Homo sapiens: one gene and its partners. The protein of the gene in region 1 interacts with the protein of each later gene in a biochemical or structural test. Each region holds a gene or a part of one and is shown on either strand. Other genes may lie near its edges.

Region 1 (8,031 bases):
TGCAAACAACACAAAAGTAGTATTTTTCTTTACCATATACCAAGTATGAGCCTGCTTGATATGACTTTAAAAGGCACAGTAATGAAGACACATTAAGAGCAATTCTGTCATACAATCTAAATCATATTCTCAACATGGAAGAGGGAGCAGAAAACTGGTGAAATGGTTTCTAGGGCCATCATTACTGGTAATGAAGACGTCAGAAGATCCAACTGTGCCTGTGTAATTATTACATGAAATAGTCACTTTCAGACTGCAATGAATTCCAGGCCATTCAGGTTTCCCAATCAGTATCATATTTCTATCCCATTACAAGTAGATTCACGTACATCCATCCATACATACATATACACACACACACAGAAACATACCCACACACTCGCCCCTGCTGTGAACAATCTGTGCACAAGGGGTGAAGAGAGCTAACACCTGGAGACACTACAGTTTCCTTTCAACTCAGAGGTGTCTGTTTCCAAACCCACTTGATTATCTCACCAAGCCTTCCTAAACTCCATGATGAGAGAGCCCTGGGACATCGCCTCCCAGAAATTTGGCAACTAGTGGAAGGAAGAGACACAAGCCCATGCAGCATCTTGCACACTGCAAACACTGCAAGCCAGCCCCTATTCAGGACCCGTTAGACACTGCGAGGCATCCCCCTAGTTGGGCAGGTACCCTTGCCTGTCCTTCCTCCACCCTTTCTCCAAAATGGTCCTGAACTGAGACCTGCAGCTGCTCCCATCCTATGCCTTCACACAGTATTTTCTCTACAGCCCTATCAAGTCATAATTATCCAGGTTCCTGACACTAAAAACTAGTTTCAGAAATAAATAGCTGCTAAAATCAATTCAAACATAAATAGCTAATCTTTATGGAGCACTTACTATGTACAGGCACTGTTGGGTGCACTTTCCACGTGTTAGCTTATGTAATACCCACAGGAAAGCCAGTGTGAGGAAGACGCATTGTCAGGCCAGGAAAGGTTTTGAACCTCAAGCAAAACCTGGAGAGGTATGCCAGGAATGAGGCACAATCTCTCCCTTTAATGAGCTCACTACCTTGTATGGAAATGAGGACCTAACTCAGAGTTCAGAGTAAGTAAAAAAGCCACAAAGTAGACATTAAAGGAGCCCAAAGGAGGAAGAATTTGTGCATCCTAGCAGGATTCTGGAGGGCTTCTTGGAGGAGGTATCCCAGTGGAGAATGAAGTCATAAATACAAGGAGCTTTCCATAGCTAAGTGTCAGCTCCTCAGCTCCCAAAGCTGCTAAAAGGCCAGGCGAGTCGGCCGCCCCCTCCTCCATTTCATCTGGAGCACGCCTGTTTCCAAGAGAGGACCAGCTAGGCCCAGCCCTTCCTTTGACACATTCCTCCAGCTGCTGCCTGTCCTTATGGAAACACATGGGAACTTTTCACCATGTTCAACTTCACGACTTCCTTCGGTGCTTTCACTGGGGAGAACCTGCGTCATGGCACTTGCTTGCACAAGGGAGCCCTTTAAGGGCCTCAGCTGGTCTCCATTGGGTTGACATGAGGACAGCCCCTTGTCTGTACCAAAGTGAGATGTAAGGGACCTACATCACCAGCAGCCAGCAAATGCATCTTTTAAAAGGCCTCTACAGATTTCTGAGAGAGGAATTTGCTTCCACTCCCTCCTCAGGAATCAGCCCCTTCAGTGCGGTAGGGTCATCCCCCCACTCCTTCCTCCTCCATACTTAAGGCTCTGCAGCAAGGGCTCAAACCCTCGCTTTTGGCAACTGTGTGACCTTGAGCAAGTCACTTAACCAGTATCAATCCCAGTTTCCTTATCTCTAATTTGGGGTATATAAATAAGAACAACTCGTTCTTAGAACTGTTGTGAATCGGAGTGAGATAGTGCAAGTAAAGTATTTTACACAGAGCCGGGCATGTAGTAAACCAACAATGAATAGTAGCTTCATTTTCATCATCAATAATGACGATGATGGTGGTGGTGGGAGGGTAAACTTGGACCCGATTCGAGCTAAAAGCAAGCACCCCTTCCCCCTCTCCCCCTCCCAAGTGTATGGCTGAGCCACACGGTGGAGACACATGCGTCATCCGGCTGAGGGGTGAATGCAGGCTCTTCTGGCGGCGGGCTCAGGAACCGCCAGGCAGTGGTGTCCTAGCTCACCTGGAGGGGTCGCGGGGTGAAGCAGATTTTCTGATGGGGGAGGTCCAATAAACTACAGACCCTCTCTTTCTGTATACCCACTCAGCAGGTATGGAAACTGACTCGTGGCCAAAGAACGCCAGCTGCATCCCTCCCCCAAGGAGCCAGGACAGCGTCCACCATGCCCCTGACTCAGTTCCCCAACTCTCTCTCGGGTGCAGGCGAGACTGCGCTGCACTTAGTGGCGGAGATAACAGGTTGGCCAGCCAGGCCTGAGAAACGTCCCCCCGCTACCTTGCGCAAACCCAGCCCCCTCTTCGAAACGCAGGTGGGCAAACAACCCTCAACCTCGCAACAACTTTGTGTATTTCACCGCCACCACAGGGCGCACGGCCTCAACTTCTCTTCACTGCGCTCCGAGGAGGGAAGCAGGAAATCGAGAATAAGGGGCAGCCCACAGACCACCCTCCTTTTCTCGGGGCGCCCCCCAAAGGCGCGCCCTGCCTTACCTTGTCTGACGGCCTTGAAGGTGACGGCCTCCTTGCAGCTGTCGATGACCCCCAGCACGTCATAGCGGGGCAAGCCGGACACCCGGACCCCCTGCACCTCCAGAAGCAGCTCCCCTTCGCCCAGCCTCGGGCCCTCGCCGCCGCCGGGAAGCCCCGCTGCCTCGACCGCCGCCACCGCTCCGACGTACGGAAACTCCCCGTGCTCCGCGCCTCCCAGCACCGTCACCCCCAGCTCGCCCTGGGGTCCCCGCTTCACGGTGCATTCGTGAACCCTGCTAGTCCAGTGGTTCTTCTTCTGGATCACTTTGGACATGATGAGTTACACCCCTCCTCCAAAAAAATAAAACGAGAGACAGGTGCCCCCCACAGCACGAGCCCCCAAGCCTCCGCTTGTTCATGGGAGAAACATCTCTCCCCAAATCACAAAACAGGAGAGAGAAACTTGGCAGCCTCGCTCCCCTGCACACGCTCGCGCACTCAAGCCATCATAAAACAAACTTTCTGGGCTTCCCCGCGAGCCCCGCACAGGCGCCCGCGAGCTTTGTTTGCATTCCGGTGCCTCTGGGTCCACGTTCCGGCGCCCGCCCGTGCTCTCCCGGACCAGAGTCCACTCTGCGCCGCTCGGGTTATTTTTTTTTCCTTCCTTCCTTTCTCTCTTGCCTTTTACAAATGCGGTGCCTCCTCTTTGCCTCCCGCCCGGCTCGCCTCTCCTCGCTGGCAGGCTGTTACTGAGGGTGAGGGAAGCCCTTCCAGCCAGTTGCCGGGAGCCCTGAAGACGCGGTGGCGGGGCGGCGGGGAGCAGGGCGGGAGGTAAGTGCTCGCGGCCCCTTTAAGCAGATACAAAGGCTCGGCTTGTTTTGTTACAGTTCATTCTATTCCGCGCCGCGGAGCGCAGCGGCCGGCGACAGGAGACGCGCGCGCATGCGCCCCGCGGCCGCCAGCCGGCCGGCCCACCCCTCCCCTCCTCCCCGAAGGGAGAGATTCCAACGTGCTTCCCGATGGGTCCTAAAACCGACCTGCCGGGAGAAGGCAACTCCCCCCCAACCCTTCCTGAACCCCTATCCTCTCTCCTTTTCTTTCAGTGCCCTGGACTCCGCGGATTCCTTTGGGGCTGGAGGGCCGCACACGTGTTTTACTCCAACTGTTTGCAACTTTTGAAACCCGGGCAATCTGGCTTTGGCATTTGAAAACCATTTCAAACAGGTGGGGGTTGGGGAGGCTGCCACACTCACCCTGGCGCTCACACTCACGCACACGCGCACGCACTCGCGCCGGCCCTAAGCCTCCTAACCGCCCTCGGCCAGTGGCTGGCCAGGCTGTCGGTCACCCAGCCCGGCTGGTTCGCCGCCCCCCTTGCCGCAGGTCCCACTGAAACCCCCGAGACCCGCCCCGGGGCGCTCGCCGCCTCCCTGCCTGCCCTGCGCTTGCGGGTTCGGGTCCTGGCGCGGGGTCTGCCAGGGTCTCTGCGACCCGGGGGAGGGGGACGGTGGGATCCTCCGGTTCCCCAACTGGGATCCCTGTGCGGGTCACACGCGCTCTTACACACACCCGCATCCTTAAACTTTGGGACCAACTTTTTAGGACACGGGAAACTACAGGCAAGAGAGAGAAGCCATGGTGCTAGTGTGGGTTCAGGTATTCAACCAAAAAAGAGATCCCTCTAGCTTTTCAACTGCCCTGCCAGCAGAGACTGCTGGACCCAGTCAATCATCTGCCCCGGCCTCAAGTTCCTGGCAGGGCCGAGAAGCCTGCGGACCTACTCCGGGGCCAGGAGATAAGGATCCCCGCCGGGCGCGGACATGCCCTGCGTCCTGGCGCCCGCGGGGGCGTGAGAGAACTCGGAATTCGCAGCCCGGGGGTAGCTGCGGCCTCCGGAGGTCGCCCGGGGGTGCGGATGGAGTGACTTCTGTCCCGGCGAGGTGGCGGACAGAAAGACTCCCATACCACAGGAAGGCTGCCCTTCCCAAATACTCCTCAAATCAGGCTGCTGAGTAGTCTCCCCAGCAGTTTGTTTTCCTCTTTAGTGATGTATAATTTTGTTCATCTTTGGTCACAGGAGAGATTCCAAGAAATGAGGGGGGTACGTTGAAACGATGAAGAAAGGATGGACACAGCAGTCGAGGTTGAGAGGTAGGCTCAGGGGTCCACCCTTGTGTGACCTTGAGCAAGCTTGGTGACCTCCGCGCCTCCGTTTCTCGCTGATCAAATAAGTAGAACAAGACCTCACAGGGTTCTTGGAAGTATTACGTGGGAAAACACTTATAAAGTGGCAAATAATAAAAACTCATTATATTCTTAATAGTAGTATTACTATTTGGGAAGAAAATTGGGAAATCATTTGGGGATTCAAGTTAGTAAGTATGATAATTTATCCTCTCCTTTCTAGAACTTAGAAAATATGGGCATACTTTGTGTGTTTGTTTTTTGATGGTGGTGGTGGTGTTTTTAGAAACGTGGTCTTGCTTTGTCCCCAAGCTGGAGTGCAGTAGCTCGACTAGCTGATTGTAACCTCGAACTTCTGGACTCAAGCAATCCTACCACCTCAGCCTCCTGAGTATCTGGAATTATAGGCACATGCCACCATGCCCAGCTAGTTTTATTTTTTTGATTTTTTGTAGACATGGGGGGGTCTCCCTATGTTGATTGCCCAGGCTGGTCTCAAACTCCTGGGCTCAAGCCAACCTCCTGACTCAGCTTCCCAAAGTGCTGGGGTTATAGATGTGAGCCACCATACCTGGTTTAGGCATACGTTTAAACATCCTTTTAAAGCATTGTAGGGTGCTATTCTAAGCTAATAAAAGTAAGGAGGGATGTTGATGCTTCTCTCTTGGGATATCCAGAACTGAAAATCCCATTGCATTGTTGTGTTTCTGAAAAAAGGAGGTGACCAATTTTCCATGGCTTTGCTTGGTGAGAGGAACTTTGTCTCCAGCTTTTTTTCAGAAGCAATCTAGGTCAATATGAACAGCACTTCAAAACATAAATTATCAAACCCGAGCACAGATCCAGCCAATCAGAATGTCAAGGAAGGGCTAAGTCATTTGAACTTTTAAGGTTCCCCTTATGTGTTGTTGGTACACAACGCTGAGCACCATAGGTTTAGTATCTTGATTCCAAAGCATTGTTTGGGTCCCAGACCTTTTTGTCAAATAAACCTGTGATCCACATCTCTGTGTAAAATAAAAACTCAAGGAGGTCAGGACACTTTGACAGTTTGGTTTACTGATGTATTATTCCCAGTTCCTAGAATGGTGCCTCGTACTAGCAAATGCTAAAATATTTGTCAAATGACTCTTTCCACAAAAATGTACATTTTTACTTTCCATGTTAGTGGGGAGTCACAGATTCCCCTGCAAATCATTAGTAAGCTTAGTAAGCTTAGCCTTGTGTGTTTCCCCACTTTGCCACTTCATATTCTAGTAAAGTGTAATTGTTTGCTAAGAATACCCACAACCAACCTTGAATTAGGAGTCCCCTACCTCTCCACTCAACTCTCACCTCTGCCTGGGGGAGTCCAAGGGCTGGACAAGACCAGGCGTTTTGTGATTCCTCCCAATGCAACAACATCCCCCTCTTGCCAGGATTCCAGGTGTCACCACAGCAGCTGAGAAAGGAAAGAACTTGGAATTTAGCATACGTCAGGTTTTAGATGTGGAAAAGCCCCAAAAGAAGGAGTAGTACCTGTGGGCACAGAGGGCAATATGGAGAGAATAGACATTATTCTAATTCAGGAAAAGGAAAAATAATTTGAACCTTCAAAGTAGCCAAGGCTGCCAGTTTCCAGGATGCTCCCTCTGCATCTTCCCGGCTGGTGTTTCACCTGGTCTAGTTCCTGTGTCCCAGACTGGAGAAGTTCAAGGCAGAGATCATCTCTCTCCTATCCAACCTTTGAAACCTCAATACCAAAAACCATGAACCATGCCTTGTGTGGAGTGTGCACCATACACAGTTGTTGAGTGAATTGATGAAGTGTGACATGAAATTGTTGAATAAATGGATGAAGTATGACATGAAATTGTGTAATATGTGACCTTTGATCCAAAGCCAGTTTAGATTTGGTTGCCAAAACAGGGGTATTTATATTAGGTTGGTGCAAGAGTAATTGCAGGTTTTGCCATTACTTTCAATGAAAAGAGCTTATAGTTATGTCATTGTGAAGTAGATTTTTCCTGAATAGATCTAAGATCCTAGTATTCTGACTTGTCTCACTTTAGCTATGAATTTGGCAATACATTCTGTTGGGAGAAATAATGCTATAAAATACCTAACTTTCAAGCTTACTGTATATGTCAGCGTAGTGATGTGAGTTGGGGGTTTTTTTGTTTGGTTTTTGTTTGTTTGTTTGTTTGTTTGTTTTGAGACAAACTCTCACTCTGTCATCCAGGCTGGAGTGCAGTGGTGCCGTCTCGGCACACTGCAACCTCAGCCTCCTGGGTTTAAGTGATTCTCACGCCTCAACCTCCCAAGTAGCTGGGATTGCAGGAGTACACCACCATGCCCAGCTAATTTTTGCTTTTTTAGTAGAGACAGGGTTTTGCCATGTTGGCCAGGCTGGTCTCAAACTCCTGACCTCAGGTGATCCACCTACCTCGGCCTCCCAAAGTGTTGGGATTACAGGCGTGAGCCATCGCGCCCAGCTGATGTGAGTTATTTTATGCAATCACCACAGTTGTGTAAGGTAGGAACTATCAGGAATGACCTTGATTTTATAACTGAGGAAAATGAAGCTAAGAAAGTGAAGAAACTTGCCCCAGAGCTTACAAGTAACAAAACCAGGAAGTGAACCCGGAGGCATGACCCAAAACCCATGCTCAGAACACTGTAGTCTGAGAGGATAGGATGTGGCCATTTAGCATATTTGGGTAACAGCATGCTCTGGACTCTTGAATCTGCTACATAGTGTATACACAGTAATTAAGTCCCCCTCCTTTCTGTCTCTTCACTTTAAGCTAAAGGATACAGTGTTTCACTCCAGAACTCAATCTCCTGTTCTCCATCTATGGGCTTTGAAGATTCAAATAATTCAGGAATGCAAAGAGAATTAATTTGCAAACATTTCTACAGTGTTTAGGCTGCAGTACAGGTGACATGCCAAACAGTCTTATATTATTGCATAAGCATTTCAACAATGAACTCCTAATACAGAGGGTAGATTCAGCTGAGAAATAAACTATAACAGAATAAACACTAGACAAATTAAGATCTTATTTGTATATAGCTAGTTCTACTAGGGGGAAGAAAAAAAAACGAATATGAAATGTGCATTTCTTTCCCTTCTCCGAAATATATTTCTTTCCAAAGTTTTCCAGTTGTGATTAAAGAAATGTGTCATTGCAGTTTAAAGTGGTAATTTTCCTCCTTTTTCTGAAAATATGAGGATGGGAAATAAGTT
Region 2 (6,516 bases), on another chromosome or scaffold:
TTTAACTTTTGCCCTTCTTCCTAGAGCCTGCATTTCCCCCCACCCTCCAAAGCTGCCCGGCTGCCTGCTCAGTTACATGCCACACCCAGCATGGATGCTTAGCTGGTTGGCAGCTCTCTCTCCACCTCATTTGCAGTACATATGTGGCCTCTGCAAGCCCCATTTCACCCCTTTCCCAGATGAGATTTCAGCGGGTTTCACCTCAACTACTTTAGGTGTGTACTGTCATCATCCTCATTCAGAGTAATCCATTCTTCATTAGTTTGCTTTAGAAACAAATAAGGAAGTGTGTAGTCTCAGGCTGCTTGCAGTCAGCTTGTTTCCATGAGAGGATTCACCCATGTGGCAGAGCCAACATCTGGGGAGGAAAGCCCACAGATGTCCTGGTTGAACAAGGCCTGAAGTCCAACTTCCCTCGGTATATTTCAGTTATATGAGATAATCAAATCCCTTTATTATGTAAGCCACTTGGGGTAGGGTTTTCTGTTACTTGCAACTAAAAATATCCCAAGTAACATATCAAAATCTCTCTAACCCCAGAAAGTGACTTTCCTCACCCCAAGAAAGGACTTGCCTCCCATGGCAGGACTAGATGGGCTTCTCTCAAGAACTGAAATACAACTCTGGTCCTTTCCTGCTTTCCTTTCTTCTGTCAATGTTCAGTTTCCATTTCTGATGGGCTTTCTTGTCTTTTTTTGTTTTTGTTTTAAAAAACAACTCAGAATTAGTTTGAATTTTAAAATTTAATTTTAACTTAATTTTTATTTTACTTCAGAAATACATATTCACAAGTTAGGCAATTACACAGTTCGTAAAATAAGTCCCCACCCTATCCTCCCACCCCAGCTTCTCCATAGAGGTAACCCCTGCCCATTCTTTCTTCTGCTTCTACCTGTATTTACCTCCTATTGCTAAATAATATGGTTGTACAGCTATTCATCATTTTCCAGATTTAGTTATTATGCATTTTCTGTGATAGAATATGGCAACCTAGGTCTCTTATACCTCTCCCACACACGTACACATCTTCTCCCTTCATTTCCTGAAAAAAAGGTTATATCACAGTATTTCACTCCAGCAGCACCCCCTTATCTGTGGGAGTTGCATTCCAAGACCCTGAATACGAATAGCACCAAACCCAAATAGTACCAAACCCGATTGCTGTCAATTGGAACACATTTCTGTTCATGTCTTCCACCCACAAATTTAATACCTTTTCATCTTAACTAAGTGTTTATCACACACCGTGGGGTGTAATAAATAATTTTTGCAGCTTGTGGTGCAACAGCAAAACTAGCACAAATTTCTTTTGCCTTCTTCACAATTTTACAGATGGATTTGTTCTTACTGTAGATCTTAGCAACTTCAGCATGTGTTTTTTTTCTTTCCTTATTAAGTCAAGAACTTTCACATTTTCTGTTAGAGGAAGCACTTTACAGCTTCTCTTTGGTGTATCTTATTTGCCAGCATCACTACTCTTATGCTTTGGGGACATTAGTAAGTAAAATAAGAGTGACTTTAACACAAGCACTGTTATACCACAACAGTTGATCTGAGCAACTGGATGATGACTAAGTGACTCATGGGTGGGTAGCATATACATTGTGGATCCACTGGAGAAATCTCACACCATCCCACTTTGCCCTGCCCAGAACATGGGTGGAGGGTGATAGTGCGAGATTTCAACATGCTACTCAAAACAGCACATGTTTTAAAACTTAAGAATTATTTCTGGAATTTTCCATTTAATATTTTCAGACTGGCTGGCTGTAACTGAACTGCAGAAAGCAAAACCACAGATAATGGGAGACTATTATATTCACATTATCCTCTATGTAAATATTATTCACAGCTGAGCCATGTAGTGTACTGTGGTTATATTTCCTCTCTAATACAAAAGTTTCTTTTCCTCTAGCACTTAAAAACTGTATTGCGTTTTTACTTGCTTATTTTTCTATGTATTTACGACTAGTTTATCTCAATCTCTGCAAGAGAAATCTAAATCCCTCTCAATGTGTATGAATCAATTAATTTCTTCTTTTTCTGGGAGACATCTCTCCTAGAGTCCTTTAAGAGTCCTGCTCCAACATGAATGACTTGCTTTCTAAGCCTGCTACACACCAACATCCTGGGAATTCTCTTCACTTTCTCCTGCGTTGGATTCCTTGTTTCCCAGCTACTGTGTTTTCCTCTATCTTGGTTTAATCTCTTATTTTGGAGGATCTTTTATACTCAAAAGGTCTCTATCTACTCTCACATTTATTTGTTGGTGCCTTTCATGTTACGGCCTTTCCCTCAAATGTATTGTGTTCATTGACTACTTTTCATAATTAAGAATGAGGCTCTGACAGGTTGACCAAATGCTGTGAGTGGAAGGGATTTGTTGCATTGTGGGCTTCATCGTCAGGTGAGTAATAGGGCAGACACGCAGCTTTTGTGTTGAAGGATCCTCAACTATTTGTATCTGTCAGCCTTTTTTTCAGATTATGCAGTTTCCCCATAGGAGGATCCTCCAGGGTCCTGTCTTGACAGGGTTTGAGTCTGTCTGTCATCATTCTGGTAGCTAAATAAGGAAAGGGTACTGGGATTTTTGTTTAGTATGATGACTGACTTAGTCCCTCCCTACTTTCAGAATGCCATATCACCTCCACCCTTTACTGTACTATGAGTCAACAACTCTGAAGAGAAACTTTTGGTTTTCTTGTGAGAGTGAGGAGGGGGAGGAAATTGGTAGGAAAGGACAGCTTTTATTCAGACTTTCAACCAATCTTCCTGGAAGTTTACAAGGGTAGTGGTGGGGAGAGCACCCAGCCAACACTTCTGCACAGAGATTTTTAAAACTCTTACTAGCTGTGTAAACTTAAACAAGCTTCTTAATTTCTCTAAGCTTCAATTTCTTCAGCTGTAAAATGGAACTCAGAGCTTTGGTGTGAATGTCAAATGGGATCAACAAATGTAAAGTGCCTGGCATAATCTGCCCTGCAGGGAGACTGCATTCAATTGTTGTCAGTACAATGGTCATGGTGATAGTAGTTGGTAGTATCCTTAGCCTTGTTTCAGTGGACAGAAAGGAACCTCTCACACTATCTAGTGTTTTTCTACACTATCTCAAAAGGGAAGGCAGCATCTCCCTACTCATCTTCTGCGGAAATGTTAATAGAATTTCAGGAGTGCAACAACTTTTGCTATTTGCCCTCTACTCCATCTTTCCCTTGAGTGCTCAACCCTAATCCTCAGAGGCACCTCTTTTATTTTTGGCTTCCATCCCAATGAATTAATGGGAAGGAGAACTGCAGCAAGGTCAACTAACCTGCATCTCAAAGAAAATTTGAGATACATGTCCTTGATGATCCCCCTTCCATTCTATACACAATTCTTTCATTTCCTAGGGCAATGCCCCAGATCCTCCTCCTACTTTTCCTGTCCTTCCTAATACCCTGGCAAGAGAGAAACAGTAGAAATAGGGTTGCCTTCAGTGTGTTAGAACCTCTCTCCCAATGCAAAATGAAATTCTTCCTTCCCCTACTTATTGCCAGTTCTCTTTTGCTCCAATCCTTCTCCCCCTTTTCTCTCACTGTCCTTACTTGGGACTTGATGCTGCTTTGTTATAGGACAGCCTTCCTTTTCACAGTTAGTCTTTCCCTGAATCTTAGGATGTGCTTCTTTTCTGCTCTGGGGCTTCCAGTAGCGTCGTTAGTTGGCTATATCTCAAGGGATTGAAGAGGACAGGGGAGCTGGAGAAGCTGGGGAAGTTGTGGCTCTTTTGAAGAATTTAGAAAGCCTGATGGGCCAGAGATCTGGTTCAATATCTGAAGAAAAGTAGGATCCAATGTGCTTTGCATTTTTTCCCAGTCTGATATTTCAGCCCACAGGACTCTAGTAGGGATTTTTCCTCCTGTATCCCTCATTAAGACTCAACAACTGAAAATACACTGAATAAAATTTTTGAAGTAGGTCTTATTAACAAAAGTAATGGTCAACTAAATATTAAGAATCAACATTTGTTGGGAGTGATGTAAATACAAAGTCATTTGGAGACTATGAGTGAATGAAGATGGACACAAGGATACAAGAACAGGTCTCATCTAAGAGCTCCTTATACTCTTGTTTCCTTTCTCAACCACACACTAACAGGGAAAACACACTTTGTCTTTGCCTTCTGTGGATGGCCTTTTCTGAGTGCAGACTTTAGTCTGTCCTTAAAATTCTCCCCAGCAAAGTAATAGAGCAGAGGATTGAAGCAGGCATTGGCTGCTGCCAAGGCCAGTGTGATAACCAAAGCTTTATGCAGTCTGTCTTTGCATAAACCCACTTTCCATGTCGTCAAGTGGACGGTCCTCAGTGTGTGATAGGGCAGGAAACACAAGAAGAAGATGATCAAGGTGATGATGATGGTGGTCAGTGCCTTCCTGTGAGAAACCCGCAGCCCCGATTCTGGGACCTCCACTTTTAACAGAACCCGAATGATCAGCAGATAACAGATGCTGAGTGTGAAAAATGGCAGCAGGCAGCCCACCACCAAGGCAATATAGTTCATGGTCTGCAGCTTAGCAATTTTATAGAGATTCAGCTCTAAGCATGATGTGACACTGCCGTTCTGCTCAGAGCCACTGTCCAGGAGCATTATTGAGGAAGCCATGATAAGGATCCATATGATCCCACAGAGGATCCAGGCACTCCTGATGCTGGTGACATGCAGAAGCCGAAAGGGGTGAACCATTGCCAGGAAACGCACAACACTCAGCACGGTCAGGAAATAAATACTGCTGTACATGTTGACATACAAGGAATAAGACATAATCCTGCAGGCCAGGTCTCCAAATATCCAATTGGAGCCTCTAAGATAATAGTCAGCCCTGAAGGGAAGCGTGCTTATGAACAGGAGATCTGAAATGGCCAGATTTAGCATGAAAACGTTCACAGATGTGGACTTCTTATAAGGCTGCAGGAAAACATATATGGACAACCCATTTCCCAAGACTCCCCAGAAAAATATTATCAGATATACAATTGGGAAAAATTCTCTCTTGAAGTTTTCAATTGTGCAGTTCCTGCTGTTGTTATTGCTGAAGGTGCCATTTGGTTCCATTTCTGATACGGAGATGGATGGTTGCAAGGACATAAATTTTCTCTCCATGCTGGGTTAAAAAGAAACAGACACAAAAAGTTACTTTGTGAATTTCCCTTTTTCCTTCTTGCTTACTGATTACATCTCTCTAGGTTTTAATGAAACAGGGAGCAATACTATCTTTTCTTTGAAAGTTGAGTTTTAAAACACTGGTTAAGTCTTTACTACATGCTGCATTACATTTCATAATAAATTTAAATTTCCTGATTTTTGAATGTAGAATAGCCATTAATTTGTTTGGTTGAAGCTGACGCTTCAAACTTAGAGAACTTGTGACCTACTGACCCTGTTGACATGAATACCTTACTATGATATTGCAGCCTAAAACTACTGAATAGCAGATTTCTCATCAGAAACTATGGAGGACAGAAAGAAATGGCACATTTCTCAAATGCTGAAAGAAAAGACCTGCCAAACTAGTATTCTATGTCCAGCAAAAATATCCTTCAAGTACAAAGAGAAAAATCAAGACTTTTTCAGACGGAAAACTAAGACTTTGCTGCCAGCAGACCTATCTTAAAAGAATGACTAGGCTGGGTTTGGTGGCTCACGCCCGTAATCCCAGCAGTTTGGGAAGCTGAGGCTGGCAGATCACCTGAGGTCAGGAGTTCAAGACCAGTCTGGCCAACATGGTGAAACTCCGTCTCTACTAAAAATACAAAAATTAGCGGGCCCAGTGGCAGGCACCTGTCACCTCTGCTACCCGGGAGGCTGAGGCAGGAGAATTGCCTGAACCTGGGAGGCAGAAGTTGCAATGAGCCGAGATCATGCCATTGCACTCCAGCTGGGGCAACAAGAGCGAAACTCCATCTCAAAAAAAAAAAAAACAACAACAAAACAAAACAAAAAACAAACAAACAAAGAATGACTAAAGGAAGTTCTCTAAACAGAAAGGAATTTATAAAAGAAGGAAACTTAGAATATTAGAAAATAAGAAAGAACATGGTAAGCCAAAATATGTGTAAATACAATAGGCTGTCCTTCCCTTTTAGAGTCTAAGTTACATTTAATGTTTTGAAACAAAAACATTAATGCTGCCTGATGTGGTTTTAAATGGATGTAGAGGAATTATTGAGATAGTTATATTATAAATGAGGGAAGGCAAAGAGACATAAGAGGAAATAAGAAGTTTTCTATACTTCACTTGAACTGGTAGAATGATGATGCTAATAGACTATCATAAGATATATATATATGTATATCTTTATATACATATATATTATATATATAGAGAGAAATACCTAGAGCTTCCACTAAAATGATATACAAAGGGATACACTCAAAAACATTACAGATAAATAAAAATGGAATTCTAAAAAGTGTTCAGATAACCAACAACAAGGCAGGAAAAAGAAAACAGATAATAAAAACAGAAAAAAAATAAAATG
Region 3 (7,718 bases), on another chromosome or scaffold:
CACCTCCAGGGCTCCATCTGCCTGGTCACCCCAATGGGTGCAGCCTGGCCTGGGTATGGGTGACATAAGACAAGTTTTGTCCCTCCCCACCATTCCAGCAGCTACTGGGGAGAGGGCAGAGCGGCTCTGCCAGAGGTTCCCAGAGACCTGAGACTCTCAGATAAGCCAGCCCCTGCCACCCTCTCCCAGCAACCCCCACCCCAACCTAGAGCTGCTCCTCTCACTTCTCCACCCTGCTTCTGCTCTAGGTCCTGGGGACAGGAGGAGGCAGTGCTGGGGTCTTCTCACCTGAGCCGCAGAAAGAGGACAAAGGCCACCAGGAGGGCCACCAGGGAGATACAGTGGCCCAGGTAGTTGATGATGACTGCGACATGGTAGTGCACCTTGCTTTTTTTCTGGAGCAGGAGAGAGGGGCAGAGGTGAGCCTTCTGCTGGATGGGAGCTGCTCTGTGAGGACATCGCCTAGGGGTGGCTGGGATGGAGCGGGTCATGATCTCAAGGGCCACTCCCCCTTCCTGAGCATCTGCTGAGGGTCAGGCCTCGCTGCAGAGCAACGCCGTCCAGTTTGAGGCTCTGCTTGTCCCTGAATCCCATGCTGTGTTCACTGCTCCGTGTTGTGTCGAACTGAATCTCCACATCACGTGGGATTCCCCACTCCACATGGACCCCCCGCCCCTGCATGCACAAGCACATGTGGCCGGCTCACAGGTGCGCCCTCACACTCGCATCTACCCATGCTGCCACCCAGTCAGAACACCAGGTGGACCTCTCAGCTGCAGAGACACCAAACTCCCGGGATTTCTCTTCTCCACCCATTTCTGAACTGAGTCACCACCTTCTCAGCCACCCCTAAATCCCTCCTGCTGCAATGCCGCCTGCTCCTGTGAGCAAGGAGGGGCCGGGCAGCTGCTGGGCTCTGGCATCCACAGAATCAGCAGAAACCACAGAAAAGTCTCCTTAGGCTCCATAACTCACTTTCCGGGGCCTTCCCCATCCCTGGCCCAAGGGGATCTGTGCAGAGTGAGCAGGATCCTCTCCCAGGACTGTAACACATTCCCCGGGTTTATTTCTTAATGAATTTAATATACTGATGGAGGTCACTGCCCTCCTCTTTACAGCAATCTTGAGTTCCAAGAGTGGTGAAGCCTTCCTGTTTACAGAGGATTTTCATATCTGTTATCGTCTTAAACCATCAGGGCAACCCCGTGGGGGGAGCCGGAAAGGCATCTGGGCTTTATTTTGTAGGAAAACAGCACAGAGGTTATGCTGACGCGCTGGAGGTCGCGCAACTCCAAAACCACCTCTTGCCTGCACATGTAGATTGGCAAGATACGAAGGCTGCAAACAGGTCCCCAGCCCATAATAGGGGACTGGTCAGTCCCCATGCCCAGCTCTCTGCAGACTCCTGCCCAAGAGCACAGCCCCCATCCACACTTTTATAGGTCCCAAGAAGCAGGGCCTAGAAACCAAGAGCTTGACACGCAGTCAAACTCCAAAGCAGTGTGTGAGTGAAGGAAGGAAAGACGGGTGTTGAAAAGCAGGTGACTTTGAGAAGGGAGGGGTCCCTGGCAGCACCTCCCTTCCTCCCCGTTTCTAGGCTCTAGGGTGGGGCTGAATGATCATGAGGCACAAAGGTGGGTGACATGCAAGTGCTGAGAAGCACTGAGCTCACAACGGCCCTCATCATCTTCTCAGAGCCACCAAGGAGCTACTGGCCACCAAGGAGCTACTCCATAGGCCTTCCTGTTGGAATTACAGAACCCACTTGAAACCAGAGATCAAGTCCAGCCCTATCCACCAGGCATCCCAGGAGAAGCCAAGACCCTATGCCCAGTTCCGCCCGGCCACCAAGGCCCTTCTGAAGGAGCACCCTCATTGGGGAACCTCTCCAGAGGCTGCTACAGAAGCTCTGTTCTTGGAGCTGGTTTCCAGGCAGAGGCTTTCTGGAACATGGCAGGTAATTACATTAGCAACTCCAGCCTCCAAAGGACTGGGATCCAGGGAGGTGTAAATGAAGGCAGGAGAGACAGAGACAGAGAGGGGAGTGAGGAGAGGGTACCTATCACCCGTGCAAGTGGGGAGGGTCTCTGAGCGCCTGGCGGCAGATGCCCCAATCCGGAGGCTCTGGAAGATATGCACACATCACAGGCTGTCTGGAGCTGGTATTTAATATCCTTTTATTAAATTTTCCACAAATCCATGCTGAGAAGCCCCTGGGTAATGACAACATGTGTGGAGCCGAGCATGGCACAACACCCCGGCCTTGTTCACAGGCCCAGGCTGGGCGGGAGGAGCGCAGTGTGCAGGGAGACCCTTCAGTGCTGCCTTCCAGGGCCCCTGCCTCACTCCCGAGTCAGGCCGTACCGGGCCCTTGGGGTTGGAGTGGGGAGGAGTTATCTGTTAAGCACCTGCTGTATGCTGAGCACTGTGCCAGGAGCTCTGCAGACACTACTGCTTTTCTTTCCCACAGCTGCCCTTGGAGACTGCTCCTCTCATCCCAGTTCTTTCCGTAGAAGAGACTGAATAATTGGCCACGCCACGCAGCCGGTATCTGGAACCTGGGTCTGCCTGGCTTTAAGCTCCCTCTTTTCCCTGTTTCCCAGGGACATTTCTTTTTTTGGGTGGGGGAGGGATGGAGTCTCACTCTGTCGCCCAGTCTGGAGTGGTGCAGTGGCAGGATCTCAGCTCACTGCAGCCTCTGCTTCCTGGGTTCAAGTGATTCTCCTGCCTCAGCCTCCCGAGTAGCTGGGATCACAGGCATGCACCACCATGCCCAGCTAATATTTTGTATTTTTTGGTAGAGATGGGGTTTTGCCATGTTGCCCAGGCTGGTCTCGAACTCCTGAGCTCAGGCAATCCACCTGTCTCGGCCTCCCAAAGTGCTGGGATTACAGGCGTGAGCCACCGTGTCCGGCCCCCTGCGACATTTCTTGGGGGACAAGCAGGAATTGAAAGCAGAGGCACTCTCTGGGGTGGTCTCACGCCACTTTGGGCCCAGGAGCCTCGGGGGACCTCCTGCTGGGACAATAGCGCCCAAGAGGGCTTTCCTCCAAGAGCCTGAGGGAGAATCAGGCCAAACCATTCCCGGGGGACAAAGTCTCAGTGTGCCTCCCTGAGCAGTCGGGCCTGGGCCGGGTTCAAGCCCTGTCTCTCATCGGCCACATCAGCATCATGCAACCTGAGAAGACAGCTGGAGAGACAGCCTGAGGGATGGCTGCTGATACCCTGAGACAAATACATCCTGCGACACCCAGACAGAAGCCAGTGACACTGTGACATTTCCAATAACAACCAGAGTTCTGGCCAGCATTATTTAGAGAGACAGCAAGGCCTTAAGAGGCACCCAGGAACACCCTGAGAGGTGGCCAGTGATACCTGGAGAGGAGAGTCAGCAGCACCCCCAGGGACAGCCAGTGACACCCCGACCGATGGCCACGATAACAGCAAAGCAGCTGGGATGTCCGAAGGACAAATGGGCACAGCTACCCCTCGGGCCCTGACCAGCACTCCATCTCCATCCAGTCTGGAGACCTAAGACCAGCAGGCACCCCGCCCTAAGGAGGGTGGCACAGCGTGGTACTTGGCAGAGGCCACTCCGCTGTACCCTCAGTGATCTGAATTGAATAAGCAATTTGTGCCCGGCTGACTCTGACTGGACTCTCTGCAGGACACCACCTCGTCCCAGGCGCTGCAGTGCCAGATCCGTCCTGATGCCTCTCTGGGTTGGTGGCAATGAGACCTCCCTTCCAAGCTCCCCACTGGTGCCCACTCCATTCTGGCACGTCCTCTCCACCGAGGCTTCCAGAGCTACTCCTCTTACCCTGCAGTGGGCACTCACTCCAGCCCCTCGATCCTCAAAGGGTGGCCCCTGGCCCAGCAACAGCACGCAGAGGAGCACGCAGAGATCTTGAGGAAAGTGGAATGTATGCCCTACGCCAGGCCCATGGAATCGGAGCTTGGTTTTAGGAAAAAGCACCTCTGCAGTTCAGAAGCCCTGGTCCAACCACCACTCACCTCTCCCCACACGGTGAGCAGTGAACCTTGGTCCACAAACCAGACCCCCAGAATCCGTTTCATGTCCCACCACGGTGTGCTCTCCCAGGCTGTGCCTGAGGCCCAGGCTCCTGTGCGCAGCAGAACGTGGGGAAAGGGGATAGAGTGTGTGCAAGTGTTGGGTGGGTGGGGGAAGGCTGGACGGTGGGGAAGGGAGTGAACAGTAGTAGCGGGAGGTGGTGGGGGGAGGAGAGGGTGCTGATACAGGCAGCAGGTGTAGGGGTGGTGCTGGGGGCTCAGTGCCATCCCCCGGCCAGCCATGCATGCAACAGTTGGGGGCCTGTCCCCTGGTGGTGCTGGCTGCGGGCAGATCTCCTGGGGTGCCTGGCCTTGAGGTGCCCTTGCAAGTCCCATTTCACAGGCAGACTTCTGCGAATCCATTATCTGCGATACCCCAGGGCGCTGGAGCTTAATTAGGGCTTAGCCCAGGCCCAGAGCTGAGAAACCTACCACTCAATTAATTGGATACTTTCCTCTGCAGTTCTGGGAGGGGTCTGGCGAGGCTGGGGGCTGGCAGAAGGGAATGGCATTTTCACTAATTAAACTAATCGATTACCCAGAGTGCTAGGCACCAGGCCAGCAGGGGCTGCAGAGGAAAGAGATGGCAGAGCCAGGCACGGATGGGCTGGGGGGTGGGGCGGGTCACTCCCCCAGGTGTACACTACAACCTCCCCTGACCTCACAGGGGAGATGAGAGACAGGGGGCGGCAGGTGAATGGAACGTCTCCCATAGGCCAAGACAGGCCAACACCACCCTTCCATCCCCAGAAGGCAGAGATCTGAATTCCTGGCCACCATTTTTGGGAACTTGGTGAGGTTAAGTTGCCTCCTCAAGGTCATGCAGCAGGTTCCCGTTGAAACCCAAACCCTAAGGTCCGTGCTATTCCCACTGCAATGCAAAGAGGGGGCTGATGAGACCGGGCTCCCGATCCTCTTCCTTGTCCTAACCCTGCTGGTGGACAGAGGTAGAGACCCCTGTCCTGGCAGGGTTGGGTGTTGCAGGGCAGGCTGAGGGTGGCTAACCTACTGCCCTTAGGCCTTTGAAGGGTGCTGGGGAAAATGGGGGCTGCCGAGTGTCCCCATCAGCCAACTGAAAAGAAGGGGCTTGCAATAGAGCAGGAGAGACAGGTGAACCACGAAGACCCCGCGCTGACCCTCAGGAGGGTTGAGTGCAGGGCGTGAAGCTGGGACAGACAGTGCGGCCTGCAGCCTGACCTCATGGCTTAGCTGTGCCTCCTGGACACCATCCCTCTCTGCAATGGCGTGTGGTCCTGAGTCACTGACAGCACTGACCCGCTCCTCTGAGCACCAGCCCTGTTTCCTTTCCTCCCACCTCCTCTACTGTGTGCCAGGCTACGGGCTCCTCACATCCCTGAACGGTCTTGCCCACTCCCACCCCACCAGCCAAGGCCAAGGCCATCTCCTCTGGCCCAACTAAGTCTCCTAACCTGGAACCCCACCTCCTTCCCCCAGTCCAGGAGGAGCCCTCCTCCCAATCCCAGGACTTCCCAGGTGGGCTCTCTGTGTGGGGGCTTAGCAAGCTGAGGGCTTTCCCTGCTCAGATCAGATCATCAGGGAGCCTGACCAACCCACCCCAGCCTTGAGTGCCACCCAAAGGTCTGGCCTGTGGGATCTGAGATGCCAGGCAGCCCCTCGCCCTGCCAGAGCAGCACCGTGGAAGAACTCGTGAGTCTTTTAAGCTAGGCATTGACCTAGCTGCAGCTTCCGGAAGGAGACAGCAGAGCCCCGCATTAGCTCAGTGACTTGAGGCCAGGAAGCCAGGGGTGGGGCTAACCAAAGCTTGCCAGGCCGGGGTGGGAGCTACAGGTGAAGGAAAGTGATTCTTTCTCCGTTAACTTTGTTTCACGCCAGATACCTGGCAGTGGGCAAAGCAGAGCCTGGGCTGCAGAGCCTGTGCTCCGGAGCCTGGGCTCCAAAGCCCTGGGTTCCGGGCTCTGACTTAACTGCCAAAAATACAAAAATTAGCCCAGCATGGTGGTGCATTCCTGTAATCGCAGCTACTCAGGAGGCTGAGGCAGGAGAATCACTTGAACCAGGGAGGTGGAGGTTGCAATGAGCCGACATCGCGCCACAGCACTCCAGCCTGGCGACAGAGGAAGACTCTGTCTCAAAAAAAAAAAAAAAAAAAAAAAGGGAATGTCCCAGAGCCACGTGACCTTGTGTGAATCATTCCCCTTTTCTGGGCCCCAGTCTCCCCATCTGTAGTGTGAACGGGTCGCACTAGATTAGAGTTTCTCACTTTTGCCCCATCAGAAGGCTCCCCTGGGGCACTCATGAAAGACACAGATTCCCAGGTCCTCCTTGGACAGTGTGATTTCTTAGGTGTTGGGTGTGGCCCTGGGACCTGTATTTGGACAAGTGCTCTGGGAGATTCCATTTTTTTTTTTTTTTTTGAGACAGAGTCTTGCTCTGTCGCCAGGCTGGAGTGCTGTGGCGCGATCTGGGCTCACTGCAACCTCCGCCTCCCTGGTTCAAGTGATTCTCCTGCCTCAGCCTCCTGAGTAGCTGCGATTACAGGGATGCGCCACCATGCTCGGCTAATTTTTGTATTTTTAGCAGAGATGAGGTTTCACCATGTTGGCCAGGATGGTCTCGATCTCCTGACCTCGTGATCTGCCTGCCTCGTCCTCCCAAAGTGCTGGGATTACAGGCGTGAGCCACCGCACTTGGCCCCACTTTTTTTTTTAATGGAATTTCGCTCTTTTTGCCCAGGCTGGAGTGCAATGGCACAATCTCGGCTCACTGCAACCTCCGCCTCCTGGTTTCAAGCGATTCTCCTGCCTCAGCCTCCCGTGTAGCTGGGATTACAGGTGTAATCCCGCCACACCCGGCTAATTTTGTATTTTTAGTAGAGATGGGGTTTCACCATGTTGGACAGGCTGGTCTTGAACTCCTGACCTCAGGAGATCTGCCTCTGGACGATTCTTATAACCAGGCAAGTCTGGGAACCTCAAGATGGGAAGGAGAGTCTCCACGGTCCCTTCCAGCTCTGATCTTTAGGCGACGGGATTCTTGGGACTGCTTAGGTCAGTCTCTCTCTTCCACAATCAGAATCCCTGGCCCTCGGACAGCCTGGGGTGTCCCCCCTTCTGCCCTTTGACCCCCGTCTTCCTCAGCACCAAGGGAGAAAGCGTCGGGTGGGAAAGGAGACAGGGTGGGAGAGACCGAGGGCAGTAGCAGCTCCAGGATAGATATATTTGTGCCTCTGCCAAATATCACCCTTCAAAGATTATTCATTGCAGCAGCATTTGTAATAACTAAAGACTGAGAATAAAGACTGGTTTAAATAAGTTATGGTACATTTTGTGATATTATGCAAATGCAAAAAGAATGAAGATGCTCTTTATGTACTGATATGGAACCATCTCTAAGATAGATGATTATATGAAAAAAGCAAGGTGTAGACAGTGTGTATAACATGCAACATTCAGGTAAAAACAAAAAAGAATACGTATACAAAATTACTCGTGTATGCGGAGAATGTCTCTGGAAGGACACTTGTGAAATTGGCAAAATGGTTGCCTCTGGGAGGGAATCCAGTGGCTGGGGACGGGGTGGGAGGGGACATTGTATTCCCATTTGTACCTTCTGAGTTCTGTGTAAGCAATATCTGCTCAAAAACATTTAACATTTTAAAAGGCTTT
Region 4 (7,718 bases), on another chromosome or scaffold:
GCACGTGACATTGATAAGGAGGTGAATTTATGGCCCAGCAACAGTCAAAAGCCTCCAGTCACAGCTGCTGACAAGACCGAAGAGACCTCAGAAGGCAAACTTCAAGAAACAACCAGAATGGGTCGTTTTCTGAACTCTGGGCAAAGGGGCAAAGGGAAACCACACTGTCTCAGGAGGACGAAGAACCCAGGGAAGCCATCAGGGAGAAAAATAAAGTGGCCTTCATGGAGGAAACACAAGTTAAGGTTAAGGTCATTCTACGTCTCAACACTGCGGACATGGAAACACCACCCAGCTCTGTCCCTTCCTGAACTGGATTTAGAATTTGAAATCTACCATCCACCAAGGCTTGTTCTGCATGTCCCAGACACAGACTAGAAGCAAACAAGGACTAGTGCAAACAGAAAGATCTTTCCAAGTTCATCGTAAGGTGGGTTTGTCCCCAGTGGAATAGTGGCCTCAGGAGATCATAAACACACTGGTAGGGTGGGCTTCCAGCACTGGGGAGGAATCGCACAGGGCCTGAGGCCCCAAAGCTTCCTTCCACCACTGTGAATTTATAGTTCCATGCGCTTCTGCACTTGTTAAATCAGGTCGCTATTTGTTGTCTACTAATCTACAAACCTGAAGCCCCCAGCCAGCAGAGGCCACTCTCGATCCCACCCCCCAGCCCCAGTTCACTCCCAAAGATGAAGACAGAGAGGACTGTCCAGTCTCTAAAAGGGAAGAAGGAGCAAGAACAAGACATGGAACCAGAAAATAAAATAAATACTCATCTTATACTCCCAACTTGAAATGCACATACAGGCAGCCCAACAGCCTGTAGATAATTTGGTTTACAATGATATGCAAAGATGCAGACCCATCGTGGCTGAATAGTTTCGTACAGTTAGAAGTGACCCTGGAAAGAATATTACTGACAGTCTTGCCTTAAAAACTCTTTTGCAAAAGACATCATGGTCCCAGACTTCAGCAGTTAACAGATGGAAATTAACTTCACTTCAAGTCAAAAACCTAAAATCTCGCCGGGCGCGGTGGCTCATGCCTGTAATCCCAGCACTTTGGGAGGCCAAGGCGGGTGGATCATTTGAGGTCAGGAGTTCAAGACCAGCCTGACTGACATGGTGAAATCCCGTCTCCATTAAAAATACAAAAATTAGCCAGGCATGGGGCATGAGAACCTGGAATGCCAGGTACTCAGGAGGCACTAGAACCCTGGAGGGAGAGGTTACAGTGAGCCGAGATCATGCCACTGCACTCCAGCCTGCCAGCCTGGGCAACACAGCAAGACGGTATCTCAAAAAAAAAAAAAAATCTAAAATCCTATTTTTCCTTTTTAAAAAAACACCCCTTCCCCAAGTAAAAGTCAACTCTGATAATGGGGAGATCTACATAATGTTTACCTTAATTACTTCTTCCCCAAATTGAAGTATTCCTCCCTATTGTGCTAGAAACCAAAATTAAACAGCACCAACTTTCCACAGAAACCCTCAGGAATGACAGCCACTAAGGAAAAAAGGATGTAAAAGAAAGGATGGAGCAAGAGGAGGAGGGGGAGAAGGCTGGAATTCAGGCTTTCCTGTGAATTCGCTTTGAAATGCCTAGAGGCCACTGGATCTGAGTCCCCAAGAAAATCTGGTAGAGAGGCCAGTGAACCAGCATAAAGAATAGAAAATAAAGGAGATGTGTTAAATAATTTTGATTTTGGCCACGTGAAGAAGTATTAGTCATACAGGTAACAAGATCTTACAGGGAGATGATTCCAAGGCTCGGCTTGACAACGTTAAGTGTATATCCATTCTGGGCCTGGAGTGCCAATTACATTTCCAAATTGGCAATTAGACACAATGTCCCAAGACAATCACCAAATAATGCCAAAAACAAAGCAAGTTCCATCTTAAAGCAGCCATTCTTTTGAAACTGCCCTTCCCTCCCGTGCCTGACTCATCCACCTCACAAACAACTGCCCATTATGAACTAAATCCTTGTTAGCTACTGATCAAGAGAAACCAGGTGGCATGAATAATTAAAATCCACGAATGATTCAAGCACCATGTTGTCAACAAACCAAGCCCATCTCTTTCACCAGGAGTTTCTCCATAGCATCTAACAAATTACCCAAAAAAGCAGGAAAATATATTTGCCACCCCCAACCAATGCATTCTCGTTCAGCCCCCAGCTAACTACTGGAAAGAGCCTTCCAACATCTACGTGTGTTTACATTTGCATGACTCAGTTCCTGCCCTCAAGGAGTTTGCAGGCAATTCAGAGATCAGATGTTCATATTCCATGAGAAGATAACTGTTTTTTCCTCTGCTCAGCCTGTCAAGTACTAATAAAAGCCCTAACAAGCAGGGAGTCAGAACTGGGTCTTAATTATTTTTCCCCCAGCACCTAGCTTGGTTTCTGGCACATCGTATACACTTAATATGCAACAAAAGCAAAAACAACAACAATAATTATAACCAGAAGACTTCTTTGAGGGCCTACTGTGTGCAGGCCGCCACGATGCTAGGTCCTTCTTCATTCTGCCTGCTGCAGACACTCATGGTGCTCCCCTCTGATGATGAAACAACATAAAAAGCACATCTCATGGAAAAAGTCCCTGACAGTGTGAGCTGTGAAAAACCCTGGTATGGTGAGAAAAGGAGCTACTTTCACTTTCATCTTCTGGAATTCTTAAGAAGTGCATTGGAGGGCCACACAGCACGGTGCCACGCGTGTCCCCCAGTCACTCCACGGGCAGCTCTTCAGCCAATTCTTTGAGGTTGAACCCTCCATTTGGGAAGGCCCACCCAGGCCCCTACAGAAAATCAGGCTGGCAGTCTTAATGCCCACTGACTTCAAACACTCCAGAGGGAGTGGTCCCCAGCCAGCCTGGGGCATCACCGCAGTGCAGCCCTGGTGACACCACCAGCCTTTAATTTTGCAAGGAGGTAGTTTGGCTGGGTTGCCCTCCTGGACTTCGGGAAGTCACACCCTTTGCAGAATGACCAACTGGCACGAGGAAGAGCCCACACATTGGTGGGTAACACACAGACCACACCCTGTAAACACTGCTCTGGCCACCACAACCCAACCCTAAATCCACAACGCTGATGGGTTCCTTAGGAGCAGGCACCTGGACCATCAGTTTTCGCAAATAAGAGCCCAGCCCGAACCACAGCTACCCTGGTCTGAAAGGAGTTTTCTCCACCCAACGATCTGGCAGAGCAAACCTTCTGCTTCTCATCCCTTCCCCCTTCAAGAGCTGGGAATTTCCACATTTAAAAATAAGCCTGTCTTCAGGGATGGACTGCACGGAGGCTGAGGGATGGACCAGATCCTTGATACTCAAAGTGTGGTCTGCACAGCATCAGTATAGCCTGTGTCTCGCCAGACCAGCATAATCTCAGGTCCCACACTGGATCTTCTGAATCACAGCCTGCATTTTAACAGCTCTCGGTGATTCCTGAGCATATTAAAGTTTGACTAAGCCAGGCACAGTGGCTCACACCACTGTGGGAGCACTTTGGGAGACCAAGATGGGAAGATCACTTGAACCCAGGAGTTCAAGACAAGCCTGGGCAACATAGGGAGACCCCATCTCTGTAAAAAATTTAAAACCTAGCCAGGTGTGGTGGCACACACCCATAAGTCTTGGCTACTTGGGGAGCTGAGGCAAGAGGATCACTTGAGCCTGGGAGGTTGAAGCTGCAGTGAGCAGTGATCATGCCACTGTACTCCAGCCTGGGCAACAGAGTGAGACCCTGTCCCAAAAAAAAAAAAAAAAAAAAAAAGTTTGAGAAGCCCAGGCCTAGAGACACTCTCCAGTCCTTGGAGATAAAGATGTGATATTCCCACTGAACATTCCCCAGGTTTTCTGTCCAAAGTGCTAGGACACCCTTGCCTCCGAGGGTCCCTGGGTTTCCTTTTCTAGGTGCCTAATGCGTGGGGTTCCACCCACCCAAGAAGCAGTTCTAAAAGAGACATCCTTGGTCTGCTCCCTGACTGTGCACAGAAAGGCATGGCCCTGTCTGATCCCCAGGGATGTCTCCAAGGGACCCAGTGTTCCCCACACGGCCCAGGGCCTGGCATCACAGCACAAACAGCCCTTTCACTGGAACCACAAAGGCGACCTTCCAGGGGATCTGCAGCTTGGCAAGGTGGTATTGGCTGCTGTGATTCACAGATTAGCATGGTCACTGCCAGTGTGAGCCGGGACGCCCACTTTGGGAAGGAGGTCCTGGCATTGCAATCGAATGCCAATGTAACTGTTTCTGCACCAGGCCTCTCATGCCCTGATGAGAGAGAGAGAAAGAGAGAGACAGCCCCAAAGCAAGCACTTACTCCTGGCTATCAGCCACCAATGAATGTCCCCATCCAGGGAACAAAATAGCTGTGAGGCAAAGAGAAGGTCCATTTGGACTTACCATTGGAATGCTTTATCCCCCAGGCCAAACAGCAGGGGGCAGGCAGCTCTTCTTTTCCTCCTGTTGTATGTTTGGTCAAGTTTCCTGGGCACCTAGAAGCAGGGCTAGCCCAAGGCTCCCAAAGGGAGGCCATAGGTTCTCAGTGTCCTCCTAGGAAATGCTATAAAATGGGGTTGGTGAAAAAAACCACCCCATGAGGCTGTGCTCTATCACAGACCTCAATTTGCAGGTGAGGAAACTGAGGCACAAAGGCATGACGTCTTTGCCCAGGATCACAGGCTGAACCTTGGGCACTGCACAGCACCCCTGACACTGAAGCAAGACTGCTCACAGGTAGCACATTTGAGGGCATTTTAACCACTTTCTCTACCAGCAGGATGCCGCCAAGCCTGTGATGTGGCCCTCCAAAGGGGAAGCTCAGCCACGCCATGCCTGCTGATTTTTTTTCACAAGGTAATTTAAAAGGCAGGTGTGCCACAGAACACACTTGGGGAAACCTGGCCTAGGGGGTGTCTTGGAAAAGCTGGTCTGGGTAGACAGTGAGTGTCCTGGCCAAGAGACCGTGACATCACTTGGGAGACAGGTCTATGAGTTCTGGACTTGGGATAACAGGGATGGAATTTGTCCCTCCTCAAGGGTACAATGCTGGACAACCATACCTGCCCACCAAATGCCACAGTGTTTCCCTTCTGCCAGCCCAGCAGCTCCTGGTCCCCCATACTGTCGATGTTCGTCCACTGATACCCCACCATCAAAACTGTAACCATCCTGCCAGGACCCCATCCGTGAAGCCTACCTCTGCTGCCCTGCCCTAACTTTCCAGCCTTGCAACAGCCAAGAGCCATAAGCCCATGTCTCAGTCTGACTCTAAATGGTTTTTTGATCTATGACAGTATACTTCAGGATCTAAAGCCTCCTTTTGGCTCAAAAACTTTATTTGTTATAGTCTGCGCCCTTCAGGGGCTATAAGTTCAATGAATCAAAGGGAAAATAAACTCAGCACTTCATGAAGCTATGATAGTTACCACTTACAAGAGGCCTGCTAAGTGTCTGGCATTTGCAGGGTGCTATGTGCCCATTATTCCTGCTCCCTATAAGAACCCTACAAAGTAAGCATCAGTATGCTCTTGGTATAGGTGATGTAACCAAAGCTCAACATGGTTGGCAGTCAAAGATGCCCTGCTAATAAATGTGAGATCCATGATTTGAACTTGGGTTTGCCTGATTGCAGAGTCTTGTACTAAAGTGTGCATTTCCATAAAGAGGGCCAGGGGCTGGACGCCGTGCCTCACGCCTGTAATCCCAGCACTTTGGGAGGCCAAGGTGGGCGAATCACAAGGTCAGGAGATCAAGACAATCCTGGCCAATGTGGTGAAACCCCGTCTCTACTTAAAATACAAAAATTAGCCAGGTGTGGCAGCGTGCGCCTGTAGTCCCAGCTACTTGGGAGGCTGAGGCAGGAGAATTGCTTGAACCCAGGAGGCGCAGGCTGCAGTGAGCCAAGATCGTGCCGCTGCACTCCAGCCTGGGTGACAGAGCGAGACTCCATCTCAAAAAAAAAAATTAATAAAAGGAGAGAGAGAGAGAGCAAGGAATGAGGAGCACGAGCTCTCTGGACAAGGGCAGGTCAGCTGGAGCTCCCCCGTGACTAGGACCCAAGAACTCCTCCAAGGCCACCCCAAGTGATCTGCTCAAAAAGGAGTATCTCAAGGTCATCTGGTGCAGCCAATCCCCAGGACAGGATGAGATGAGGCACAAGGGCCAATCTGGAATCAAGAGCTCCACGGCACTGAAGCTCCAGCCCTGATTGACTGCGTCAGGCCAGACCCTGGGTAATTACCAAGCTGTAATGGGATCTGATATTTATATTAGTCACGAGCCTGACAGAGAAAACGTGTTGTTTTCTCAGGCACAGCCATGGAGACAACATCTCGATAATTCATTACACGCAGACCATCCTTGATCAAGCCCAAGCTTCTACAAGGCCAACAGCTCAAACTGAGAATGGAAATAACTCTATGCCCAGCCACACTCAGGCCCCTCAACAAACCACAGCTCCAACAGGAAGTTGGCCTCAGTTTCCCCAGTTATTTAAAGAGAAGTAGACCACATGCTGGAAGACGAGCAGAAGATGGAAATAAAGATATGTAACTGTCCCAAGGCTGAATTCCTAAAGGAATTGCTAGGGAACTGCAAAACACATTCTGAGCTAGAAACTTTAACCCTCATTCCTCAACTCCTCCCTCTCTCCTATATCGAATCACAGAGCAGGAAGGGACATTAGAACTCACAGAATTCAATCCCCACATTTTATACACAAGGAAAGATAGACACCAGAGAGGTTAAATAACTTCTTCAAAGTCATGGCTTTATTCAGGCTACCAGAGCAGCTCCCTATTCAATATAGTCTATGACAGGATTGAACTTCACAACGTCACACCCAAGTGAATAGAGAGCTCTGATGAAATCCCACAAGGAAAAAAACAATAATGTGAAAAAGTACAGCAAAGAACACAGTACTGGAATGACTGTGACCAAGTTCCCAACAGGAGGAAATTGTAATGTTTTCTTCTTCACTTTCTGAAAAAGTCCACATGCCACTCTTTTCAAAAGACTAAAGTCATTCACTGTTTGAGATTCAGAGGCCAAAGGTACTAATGAAGAGATGTCCCACGATGCATGTCCACAGTCTTGGGTTCCTTTGATCAAAAAGGTTTGGTGCGATCCCAGAGACCAAACGCTCATGAAATTGGAGCTCCTTGCTGAATTTTATCTCCCACAGAATTTCAGACCTGCTTTCCTCTGGACTCCAGCTCTTGATCAAACCATCTTGGGGCTGAAGGAGGGTGAGGGTGAACCCATCTGAGGGCTGGTAGAATTTTCTGGAAAGGCAGCCTATGTTTTCTTGGGAAATCTAGCACAAAAATTATTATTCTAAGCTTAAGCCAAATACATGCCTGTGTATCGAGTCTTGACAAAACTACCAAATACTTGGAAAGAAAAAAGAAAAAAAGACAAACACACACACACACACACACACACACACACACACAATTGCAATAAAAATACAGACCTCAAGCATAGAAAGAAAAGCTTTTAAAAGGCCTAACTTACCGTTACTGCATATAATGAGCTGGCTACCTATGGCTTAAGTGAGCAAATCTAGGGGCAGGTATCAAGAGATTCTAGGTGTGCTTTAAAATGGACTTACGGTATCAAAAGGAACCTGCACTCATTCTATACTGGCCTCACATCTTCCAAACAAACCACCATCACCTCTCATCCCTGGCAGATTTCTTACAGCAA

Evidence for each region.
Region 2: the proteins of MAGI1 (region 1) and CYSLTR2 interact in a test that uses a peptide from one of them, tested with the Homo sapiens proteins (2 studies listed by IntAct, with this or other methods).
Region 3: the proteins of MAGI1 (region 1) and CRHR1 form a complex in vitro, tested with the Homo sapiens proteins (2 studies listed by BioGRID and IntAct, with this or other methods).
Region 4: the proteins of MAGI1 (region 1) and KCNMA1 form a complex in vitro, tested with the Homo sapiens proteins (one study listed by BioGRID).

What each region holds. Positions count from the first base shown.
Region 1 is NC_000003.12:66,035,357-66,043,387, forward strand, and holds the start of MAGI1 (membrane-associated guanylate kinase, WW and PDZ domain-containing protein 1), read right to left. Parts: upstream 3,563-8,031; 5' UTR 2,953-3,562; coding exon 2,640-2,952; intron 1-2,639. UniProt on the Homo sapiens protein: Plays a role in coupling actin fibers to cell junctions in endothelial cells, via its interaction with AMOTL2 and CDH5. May regulate acid-induced ASIC3 currents by modulating its expression at the cell surface.
Region 2 is NC_000013.11:48,705,439-48,711,954, reverse strand, and holds the end of CYSLTR2 (cysteinyl leukotriene receptor 2), read right to left. Parts: intron 5,139-6,516; 5' UTR 5,138-5,138; coding exon 4,097-5,137; 3' UTR 729-4,096; downstream 1-728. UniProt on the Homo sapiens protein: Receptor for cysteinyl leukotrienes. The response is mediated via a G-protein that activates a phosphatidylinositol-calcium second messenger system.
Region 3 is NC_000017.11:45,821,892-45,829,609, reverse strand, and holds part of CRHR1 (corticotropin-releasing factor receptor 1 isoform 2 precursor), read right to left. Parts: intron 396-7,718; coding exon 289-395; intron 50-288; coding exon of another isoform or gene 1-49. Other genes in the region: LINC02210-CRHR1 (CRHR1-IT1-CRHR1 protein), read right to left, coding at 289-395.
Region 4 is NC_000010.11:77,627,351-77,635,068, forward strand, and holds part of KCNMA1 (Calcium-activated potassium channel subunit alpha-1), read right to left. Parts: exon of another isoform or gene 6,760-7,718; intron 1-6,759. UniProt on the Homo sapiens protein: Potassium channel activated by both membrane depolarization or increase in cytosolic Ca(2+) that mediates export of K(+). It is also activated by the concentration of cytosolic Mg(2+).